Linked DNA regions of Homo sapiens. The protein of the gene in region 2 interacts with the protein of the main gene of each other region in a pairwise test. Each region holds a gene or a part of one and is shown on either strand. Other genes may lie near its edges.

Region 1 (3,655 bases), on a different chromosome or scaffold from region 2:
GAAAATGCTGATTTTCTTTTGTATCAGTTTCTTTAATTTGTTTTTTGGAGACGGAGTCTCACTCTGTTGCCCAGGCTGGAGTGCAGTGGCGCAATCTTGGCTCACTGCAACCTCCGCCTCCCAGGCTCAAGCAGTACCCCGCAATATCAGCCTCCCAAGTAGCTGTGACTAAAGGCATACATCACCACACCCAGCCAATTTTTATATTTTTTGTAGAGATGGAGTTTCACCATGTCGTCCAGGCTGGTCTCAAACTCCTGGGCTTAAGGGATCCAACCACCTTGGCCTCCCCAAGTGCTGTGATTATAGGCATGAGCCACAGTGCCTGGCCTTGTATCAGTTTCTAATAGTCCAGCGGGCCCAGTGACTTTGTTAGCAACTTCTTTAAAAGTGATTATTATTAGGCTGGGTGCAGTGGCTCATGCCTGTCCTAGCACTTTAGGAGGCCAAGGCAGGAGGATTACTTGAACTCAGGAGTTTGAGACCAGCCTGGGCAACATTGAGACCTCATCTCTTAAAAAAAAAAGTGATCATTATTAGTGTTTGTCTAGGGCTAGATGGGTTGGGGGGAAATTGGGAGTGACTACCACTGGGTACTGGGTTTCTTAATGTAAATGAATAAAGTTGGTTGCTATAAAGGGACTAGGAGCAGGCAGGACCATGGGGTGTATTAGAAGAGTATATGCCCTTCTAAAGGGGACAGCCACTACTCTGTTTTGGTCTACTACTTCCTTATCTAATTGCAGGCCCGATATAACTACATCTTTTAATTTTCAGGAAAAGCAGGAACTGGGTATTTTTAATTGCTCCTAATTTTTTAAACAGTACAACAAATTAAAAAAAAATTTAAACACTTTGCAAGCCAGACTGCAAAATATGAAGATAATCCTTCATGGACCAAATATTATAGGCTAGATCAGCTACAGATTAGATTATCTCTGTTGACCTGGCTAGCTGTAGGACTCCTTTTAAAAAAATCTTACAAAAATATAATGTAGGACAGGCACAGTGGCTCATGCCTGTAATCCCAACACTTTGGGGGCTGAGGCAAGAGGATCGCTTGAGCCCAGGAGTTCCAGACCAGCCTGGGCAACATAGGGAGACCTCATCTCTACAAAAAATAAAAAAATTAGTCAGGTTTGGTGGCATGCACCTGTAGTCCCAGCTACTTGGGAGACTGAAGCAGGAGGATTGGTTGAGCCCAGGAGTTTGTGACTACAGTGAGCCGTGATTGCACCACTGTACTCCAGCCTGGGCGACAGAGTGAGACGCTTTCTCTAAAAAAAAAAAAAAAAAAAAGAAGAAGTATGTATGTATGTATAGCTTTTTTTTTTTTTTTAATGCTATCGGTAGATCACTGTGCCTGTTTTGTTCCAGACACTTAGTGGGTGCGTTACAGAACCTGTCTCCTGCAAATGCGTAATCAGTACACTTGTAGAGAGTACTTTAACATATCTAATTTTACTGTCAATGCCTGTATACATTATTTCAATTTTAAACTTGAAGAAGCAGAGACTCATAGATGTTAAATAATTTGACCATGTATCACACCTGGTTCTTAGCAGAGACTGACTGAGTCCTCGGTTTTTTTTTGCCTCCTAATCTAGTAATCTGCTATACTAGTTACTACTGCGCAAACACTTTGGTAGTCTACTGACAGATATTTGAAATAAAAATCTTATTTAACATCTTGAAATAGAAAAAATAAACCATGTAGGTATTTTGCTCCCTGTTCAATTCCATCTCCCTCCCTACAGAATAAGAATGTGTTTGGTGGCAGTGGTAGTTTAAGGGCCTATGTTTATTGGATGTCTCTGATGTGTTATACCAGTGCTTTAGTGTTAGTTACCTTCTGAATCTAGTGACATGTCAATAATTATGTTAATCTATTTCTAAGAAGGATGGAGGGAGGTCTTACAATAAAATACGTAACTACAAAGAAAACAGTGAATAAAAATAAAAGCACACATTTGAACAATGCAGATATAGCTAAGTACATGGAGAAGGGTCATTATCCTGGTAAGCCTGTCTAAAGAGATCTAGAGCAAAAATCCTGGGGTACAGGTAAAATAAAGGTCATTTCAGTAACATTTTGGCAACCTGAATTCAAACATACTTAAATTTGTGGAAAGAGAAAAATTAGTTTAGGTCCTCCCCTCTCCCCTCCTTCCCAAGGGAGATCTGTAGCTATTTGTAGGTTATAGCCTTTTTCTTTTTTTCCTTTTTTTTTTTTTTTTTTTTTTTGAGAAGGAGTTTGATTCTTGTCACCCAGGCTGAAGTGCAGTGGTGCAATCTTGGCTCACTGCAACCTCCGCCTCCTGGGTTCAAGAGATTCTCCTGCCTCGGCCTCCCGAGTAGCTGGGATTACAGGTGCCCGCCACCATGCCCAGCTAATTTTTGTATTTTTAGTAGAGATGGGGTTTCGCCATGTTGGCCAGGCTGGTCTCGAACCCCTGATCTCAGGTGATCCGCTTGCCTCTGCTTCCCAAAGTGCTGGGATTACAGGCACGAGCCACCCTGCCTGGCTGGTTATAGCCTATTTCTTTTCTTTTTCTTTTTTTTTTTTTTTTGTTGGAACATTTTATTGAAAAGAAAAACTGTATAAATAAGTTCTTGGTTTGATAGTAACAAAGGCTTATGTTCCCCCTTCCCTCCCCATCTTTGAAGAACTAAAAAAGAAACAAAAAGTTCATCCCCATGACGCCATTCTTGACCAGAGTCTGCCCAGAAGCCTGTCCTGTGAGCTCTTTCTCGATCTGCCTCAATGGGGCCAGGTCATTCTGGGGATGCCTGGTCCCAGGGGCTGCAGCACCTAGTTTTGTAGTTGGGAGAGACTGGGATAGAGCTGGGGAGGTGGCTGAGGTGGTTTAGTGTCAGGAGAAGAGGGCTGGCTGACCCCCCTAGCTCCATTTGGTCTCACAGGTGAGAAGGTACTTGGCTATAAATATGAACACTGATTGAGGCAGGCTTGATCTGGGACTTTGAGGGCAGGCAGGATGATTATGGCCCAGGTACCACAGGATGTGGAGTTTCTGGGCTCAGCATCATGGTATCTGGGGCCCACGTCCAAGTGGAGTAAATTCTAGCTGGGAAGGGCCGTTCAAGCACACGGGAACCCTGGTTTGTTTGTCCACCCCCACCCATGGAGTATCCAAGCTGGTACCTCACCTCCCCCGAATCCCAGTAGCACCCATGTGTCTCAGAAGCCTTTGGCTGCCTCCTGCCATCCTGTGTGCACCCTGAGGCCCTAAAACTCGTCTTGCATCTTGTCAACCTTAGGCCGGACCAGGTGCCCAGTGAACAGCAGGGAGCCGCTCTGGGTGTCCCACACCAGGAAGATGAAGGGGTGGTCGGAGTAGAACAGCTTGGGGCTGCGCAGCTCCTTGCTCCCATAGATGTCCTGGTCAAAGGAGTTGCCGTCTGTGTCCAACTCAAAGGCGGTGGCGTGGAACACGCTGGTCAGGTACAGGTCCTTCTTGTGTGGCATGCGTGACAAGTTTGCCTTGTTCTTGTCAATGGCCTCAGTCAGGCCAAGCCTAGCCAGGAGTTTCTGCAGGTCATGGGAACTTCCACCACCCGCTTGGGCAAGGAGATGGCGACAGGCTTCTGCTTCTTCCCCATCCAGATCTTCAGCTGCTCTTTGGTTACCAGCTTT
Region 2 (2,416 bases):
TTCAAAAAGCACATAGTCCAGGTGGGCCCAACTTAATCACATAAGCCCTTAAAATTTGAAAAGGAAGGCAGTAAAGTCAGTCTCAGCAAGTCAGAAACATGTAGTTGAAGAGAAGGAAGAAGAGATCCAACCCATAAGCCACTTGTTGCTGGTTTTGAAGATGAAGGGAGCCAAGGGCCAAGGGATGATGGCCTCTAGAAGCTTTAAATGATTCCTAGCCAACAGCCAAAAAGGCAACAGGGACCTCAATCCTACAGCACCATGGAATGAAATTCTGCCAACAACTCAATGCAACTGGAAACAGATTCTCCTCCACAGCCCAGCCCTATCAATGCTTTGGTTTTCAGCTTGTGTGACTTGAGGCAGAAAAACCAGCTAAGCCTGCTGGGTTTCTAACATATAGAACAATAAAATAATTTGTATTTTAAGTCGTTAAGTTTGTAGTAATTTGTTACAGCAACAGTAGAAAACCAATGCAATAACTCAAGTTAAAAACTATAATGTACAACTAAGATGACAAAAATGAAAAAAGATGGTGTGAAATCACCAATGAGTATAGGCAATCTTTTCCACTAACAACTTTCCTGTAACTATTAGTTGGTGTGCAGAATACCAGCATAATGATGGAGCAGAAACAAAAATAGCTTTCAAATGAATCAGAGACTTTTAATTTGATTTTGTGAAAAAAGCTTATAAGCAATCAGACAGGCTGCTTTTCTCCTTTGTGTTTGTTACCTATGAGTTTCATATGGTGCAAACATTAATTAGGAAGAATCTGTAACTATGAAATGCTATGTAATTCAGGAAGACATCTTTTCCATATGGTTAATGAAAGACAAATCCTTCCCATATCATTTAACACTCACAAAAAGTATATAACAAACAAAACTGAAATTTGAATCGGAGTTTATTTGAACAGAAAAGCACTGGAAGTCTGTTCATTTTTTTTTCTTGAAACCAATTATAAAAAGTGGTCCCAATTTCAACAATTAAAAAAAATTTTCAATAAATACGTAATGAAGTACTTCAATGGGTCAATGTATCAACCTATGGATTTTTTTTTCTTTTTCAAAGGTATGCTAAGAATGAATGAATGCAGGATGTTTTTGAAAAAAAGTAAATATTATATCCTATATTATGATTGTCATGACACAACCAAATGGCTGTTTTCAGTTTTATTTGTTGCATTCAAAATCCACTGTATATTTAAGCATACATGACAAAGAACACAACCATTCTTCCTAAAACAATAAAGATACTATCCTTAGAGTTCACAGTTCTACAACAACTTTACATTAAATGTTCAAAACATTGTACAACCACAGATATTTGTGAACAGTCTTGAGAGCTGTATTTTGGTACATTAAGGCAGCTTCAGCCAACATTTTAAGAGATTCTGAATATTTGTTACAACACAGGACAAGTTTGATATTTGAATACTTGAGGTCTCAAGAAATATTAAATGTCACCTAACAACACCACAATTTGTGAAACTGTGATCTTACCTAAAAATCAAGATACTCATCCTATCAGTATCAAAGATACTTATTTTTTTTAAAAAAAGGAATTTACATTGAATGTGGGGATATAAACCCTGTATTTAAACAAGGGCTTTCAAACAGTTGCTCACACACATCTGTGAGGTAGGTTATTATCCACATTTTGTAAATCAAAAAACTAAATGAGGTTACGTGACTTGCTGCTGCTTCAGCAGCCAAAGGAAGAAACTGATTCCAAGTTAGATTTTGTTCTTAGCTCTGAGTTGTTTCCTTGACAAACTTTTTAAAGGGTTAAAATATAAAAACTGCCATTCATCAAATTCATTTATAAAGCATGAGAAGGTAGCCAAATGTTATGTTTACCAAGGTGACTTATAAAGTCAATCAACATGAAAGAAATAGGAAAATACATTTAGTGAACAACTTCTGATAGTGATAGGGAGAGGTTTGACCAAGGGAACTCAATCAGGCAGATGCAAACAACATGATCATTTGTAGGAGGCAGATCTAAGGAGAACTGAGAGGGATTAGAAAAAAAGAAAATATAGTTTAAACAAGTTTTTACTATTACTCTTCTTATAATTTAAGGGAGAAGGCACAATTTAGTGTTTTTTTTTTTTTTTTTTTTTAGAACAGTGGATCTCTCTTCCACTTTAGGAAAATGTTATCTGTCTAGAAAAATGGCCATTTTTGGTAGCAAAACTTAAATGTGTAACTGTGAAAAATGCACGTTTAAATTAGTAGAAAAAAAAATAACAATGCAATTCTCCTTGGCTAGAATGTTTTTGTTCCTCCTTGAAATTTTAAATCAACACAACGTAGCAACCCTCCCTGCCCACCTCAGAAAAGGTCACACTGTATGCACTGTATGAACCTTGTCAAAATTCTACGTATTATTCAAAAAAGTTTTCATGCCA
Region 3 (3,655 bases), on a different chromosome or scaffold from region 2:
CCCAGGCTGAATCAGCCCTGCACCCAAGCCACCCAGCAACCTTCCTAGCGAGTCCTCCTCCTCTCTTGGTCTCCTTCCCTTCTTATCACATAAGGCCTGCCCATCACCCTTTGTTGCCACCCCTGGGAGGACCACCCCATGCCATCTCTGCTGTGAGTCAGCTTGTGCCACGTCTGCCACCACCCACTGCCAGATGCCTCATGCCCTTTCAGGAGACGCCGTGGGGAATTGAGGAAATAAGGGGCCGTCCAGGATATGGGGAGGTGGGGAGGAAACAGGCAGGCCAGGCCCTGTCTCTGGGAGGGGATTCAGAAGAACAGACTTTGTGGTCCAGGCTCCTAGCTGGACAAACTCTGGATGCGTTGGGAGGGAAGAGTGACCAGGCAGGCCCACTTGCCAAGGTACATGGCAGCTTCTCCCCATGCCAGAGAATGGGTCCCAGGGAAGTGAGGGCACCAAAAGTATAGTGGGGAGAAGAGATGGGCAAAGGTCCTCTCCAGGAATGAGGAGCCCCAGGAGCCGGAATACCTGGCCTGGCTGAGCCAAAATGTGGTTTGGGTAGCCAAGCCCGATGTCTCTGAAGTGGTCAGGCATCAAGTCATTTGGCAGAGATGCCCCAACCCAGACCTGTAGCCACAGTCTGATCTCTGCCAGCCACCCCAGGTGGCATGTCATTCCTTCTCGCTTCTCCACCCCCCTGGGATCTGGGGCCCACAGCCAAGCCAGGGAGTCGGCCGGCAGAGTCGGGGCTGCCCTGGTACCCGGGAACATTCTGTTCCAGAGGCCTCCGGTACCTAGCAGAGGTGGCTCTTGGCACTGAGACCAAGGGGTACCAGGAAAGGACACAGCCTGGAGGGTAGGGAGACTTGGAACCTCCTCCTATGAGGATTACTATGGAAACAAGGGCCTGGGGATGGGGGGAACATGACTGATGGTGTCTTCAAATATTTGAAGGGCTGAAGTGTATGAGAGGGAGTAGCCCTTTCTGGAGCCAAGGGAGGAAGGAGGGCTGATAGGCGAAAATCCCAGGGAGGCAGGTTTCAGCTCTATATGGGGAAGCACTTTGCAGCCATTGGAGCTGCCCAAAGATGGAATGACTGTCCCAAGAGACTGCTTGCTTCCCATCACAAGAGGTGACCAACTCTTGAGACGGGATGTGGCCAGGCCATCGCAGGGTGATGAGTTGGGGACTGCTCTAGGTGGCCAGTCTTCCAGGTCCCTTCTCACCCTAAACTCTCTGATTGACCTTGTGGACAAGCCCCTGGCCCAGCTGAGAGGTGAGGGTGATGGCCCAGGCAGGGCCCAGCTGAGAGGCGAGGGTGAGGCCCAGGCAGGGCCCAGCTGAGAGGCGAGGGTGAGGCCCATGCAGGGCTCAGCACAGCAGGATGCTCCTGGTGCTTTGGGCTCAGCAGCCGAAGCCGCTGGTTCAAGTCCTGGCTCTGCTGTTTACCAGCTGAGGACTCCTGGGTAAGTGATTTAACCCTTATAAGCCTCAGTTCCTCATCTGAAAAGTGGGACAGTAATTATCACTACTTCCAAGGGCAGCATCAGGATTAATGAGATGCTGCATATAAAGTGCTAGCTCAATTCCAATGTTCTGACCATGACAGCCCCTCAGAGATGTAAGTTTCTGGGGATATTTGGACCTAGAGCCTTTTATTGGTTAGAGAGTGTCCAGTCTTGGCCAGGCGCGGTGGCTGACGCCTGTAATCCCAGCACTTTGGGAGGCCAAGGTGGGCGGATCATGAGGTCAGGAGTTCGAGAGCAGCCTAGCCAATACGGTGAAACCCCATCTCTACTAAAAAAAAATACAAAAAATTAGCCAGGTGTGGTGACAGGCGCCTGTAATCCCATCTACTTGGGAGGCTGAGGCAGGAGAATCGCTTGAACCTGGGAGGTGGAGGTTACAGTGAGCTGAGACCGTGCCACTGCACTCCAGCCTGGGCAACAAAGCAAGACTCCGTCTCAAAAAAATAAAAACAAGAGGGCAGGCATGGTGGCTCACGCCTGTAATCCTAGCACTTTGGGAGGCCGAAACAGGCGGATCACGAGGTCAGGAGATCGAGACCATCCTGCCTAACACGGTGAAACCCCGTCTCTACTAAAAATACAAAAAATTAGCCAGGCGTGGTGGCGGGCGCCTGTAGTCCTAGCTACTCGGGAGGCTGAGGCAGGAGAATGGCGTGTACCCGGGAGGCGGAGCTTGCAGTGAGCCAAGATTGCACCACTGCACTCCAGCCTGGGCGACAGAGTGAAACTCCGTCTCAAAATAAATAAATAAATAAGTAAAATAAAAAATAAAAATGATAGGCCGGGTGCAGTGGCTCACGCCTGTAATCCCAACACTTTGGGAGGCCGAGGCGGGCAAATCACGAGGTCAGGAGATCAAGACCATCATGGCTAACACAGTGAAACCCCGCCTCTATTAAAAATACAAAATTAGCCGGGCATGGTGGCAGGAGCCTGTAGTCCCAGCTACTTGGGAGGCTGAGGCAGGAGAATCACTTGAACCCAGGAGGTGGAGGTTGCAGTGAGCTGAGATCGTGCCACTGCACTCCAGCCTGGGTGACAGAGTGAGACTCCATCAAAAAAAAAAAAGAGTATCTAGGCTTCCCTCTTGGATGTGGGGAAACTGAGGCTCAGAGAGAAGAAGTGGGGTGATTTGCCTTCAGGCAGTAGGTTTAGTTTTGCCCCCAGCCCCAGCACATCCTCCGGCGACCCTGTGTGCTCCATGCCTGAGGTCCCTGGACAGAACAGTGGACGGTTCACCTGCCTCTTGGGGCCCATCCAAGCCCCCAGAGCCACACTTGGTCCTGGCTGGCCCAGAGCCTGACCTGGGCTGAGTTTTGTGTTCTCATTAATTGTCTCTCCAGCCTTCTACCTATGCTCCAAGGCCCAGGCATCTGGGGCCTGGGGCCTTGCTTCTCATAGATACACAAAGAAGCCCACAGTGCTATCCAGGAAGCTGGGTTTGGAAGGCACTGAGCCCTTCAGTGTGCCAGACACCCCAGGGCTTTGGCCTCCCAACTGGCACACCAGAGCCTGCCTTGTGCCCAAACATCCCCTCTGCTTCCCCCTCTGTCTTGCTGCCTGCTGGCCTCCCGGAGGCTGGTGGGGCCACCACTTCCATCCCCTTGGCAGGGTGGCCAGGCAGGCAGCCATGGCACGTAGGCTACCCAGCGTGCCAGCTGGGAACCCTGGCCAAGTCCCTCTGCCTGGAGCCAGGCTGCTGGCCCCTGTTTCTGTCTCTAATAGAAAGGAGTGGGCAGGGGTAAGCCGCCTCTCAACGGGAAGGGAGACGGCCAAGGCTCTGGGTCAAGAGGTTTCCAGACCTCTCTCTGGGAAGACTCAGTAGGGTGTGTTTGAATGAGAGGTGGAAATAGCTCTGGCCTCACCGCAGAATCGACCCTGCCCTCCAGAATGTAGGCTTCAAGGAGAGTCCAGCCGCTGGCTCATGTATTCACCAAAGGCTGCTGATTGAGCACCTACTATGTGTTGAGAGCCTGCGTGGGGATTTGAAGCCAGCAACTGTGTCCGTCCCCAAGGGGCTCACAATCTCCTGGGGGAGTGAGAAATAAATAACAAGCATCACCCGAGTGGAGCTGTGGTGGAAGTTGGGCTGGATGCAGTGGACACCAGAGGAGGGAGTGGGTCA

What was found.
Region 1: the proteins of PRKAA2 (region 2) and KIF24 interact in binary tests that used the Homo sapiens proteins (3 or more experiments, as listed by UniProt).
Region 3: the proteins of PRKAA2 (region 2) and STAC2 interact in binary tests that used the Homo sapiens proteins (3 or more experiments, as listed by UniProt).

The regions. Positions count from the first base shown.
Region 1 is NC_000009.12:34,319,248-34,322,902, reverse strand, and holds part of KIF24 (kinesin-like protein KIF24), read left to right. Parts: intron 1-3,279; exon of another isoform or gene 3,280-3,395; coding exon of another isoform or gene 3,396-3,463; intron 3,464-3,655. UniProt on the Homo sapiens protein: Microtubule-dependent motor protein that acts as a negative regulator of ciliogenesis by mediating recruitment of CCP110 to mother centriole in cycling cells, leading to restrict nucleation of cilia at centrioles.
Region 2 is NC_000001.11:56,713,561-56,715,976, reverse strand, and holds the end of PRKAA2 (5'-AMP-activated protein kinase catalytic subunit alpha-2), read right to left. Parts: 3' UTR 642-2,416; downstream 1-641. UniProt on the Homo sapiens protein: Catalytic subunit of AMP-activated protein kinase (AMPK), an energy sensor protein kinase that plays a key role in regulating cellular energy metabolism.
Region 3 is NC_000017.11:39,219,426-39,223,080, reverse strand, and holds part of STAC2 (SH3 and cysteine-rich domain-containing protein 2), read left to right. Parts: intron 1-3,655. UniProt on the Homo sapiens protein: Plays a redundant role in promoting the expression of calcium channel CACNA1S at the cell membrane, and thereby contributes to increased channel activity. Slows down the inactivation rate of the calcium channel CACNA1C.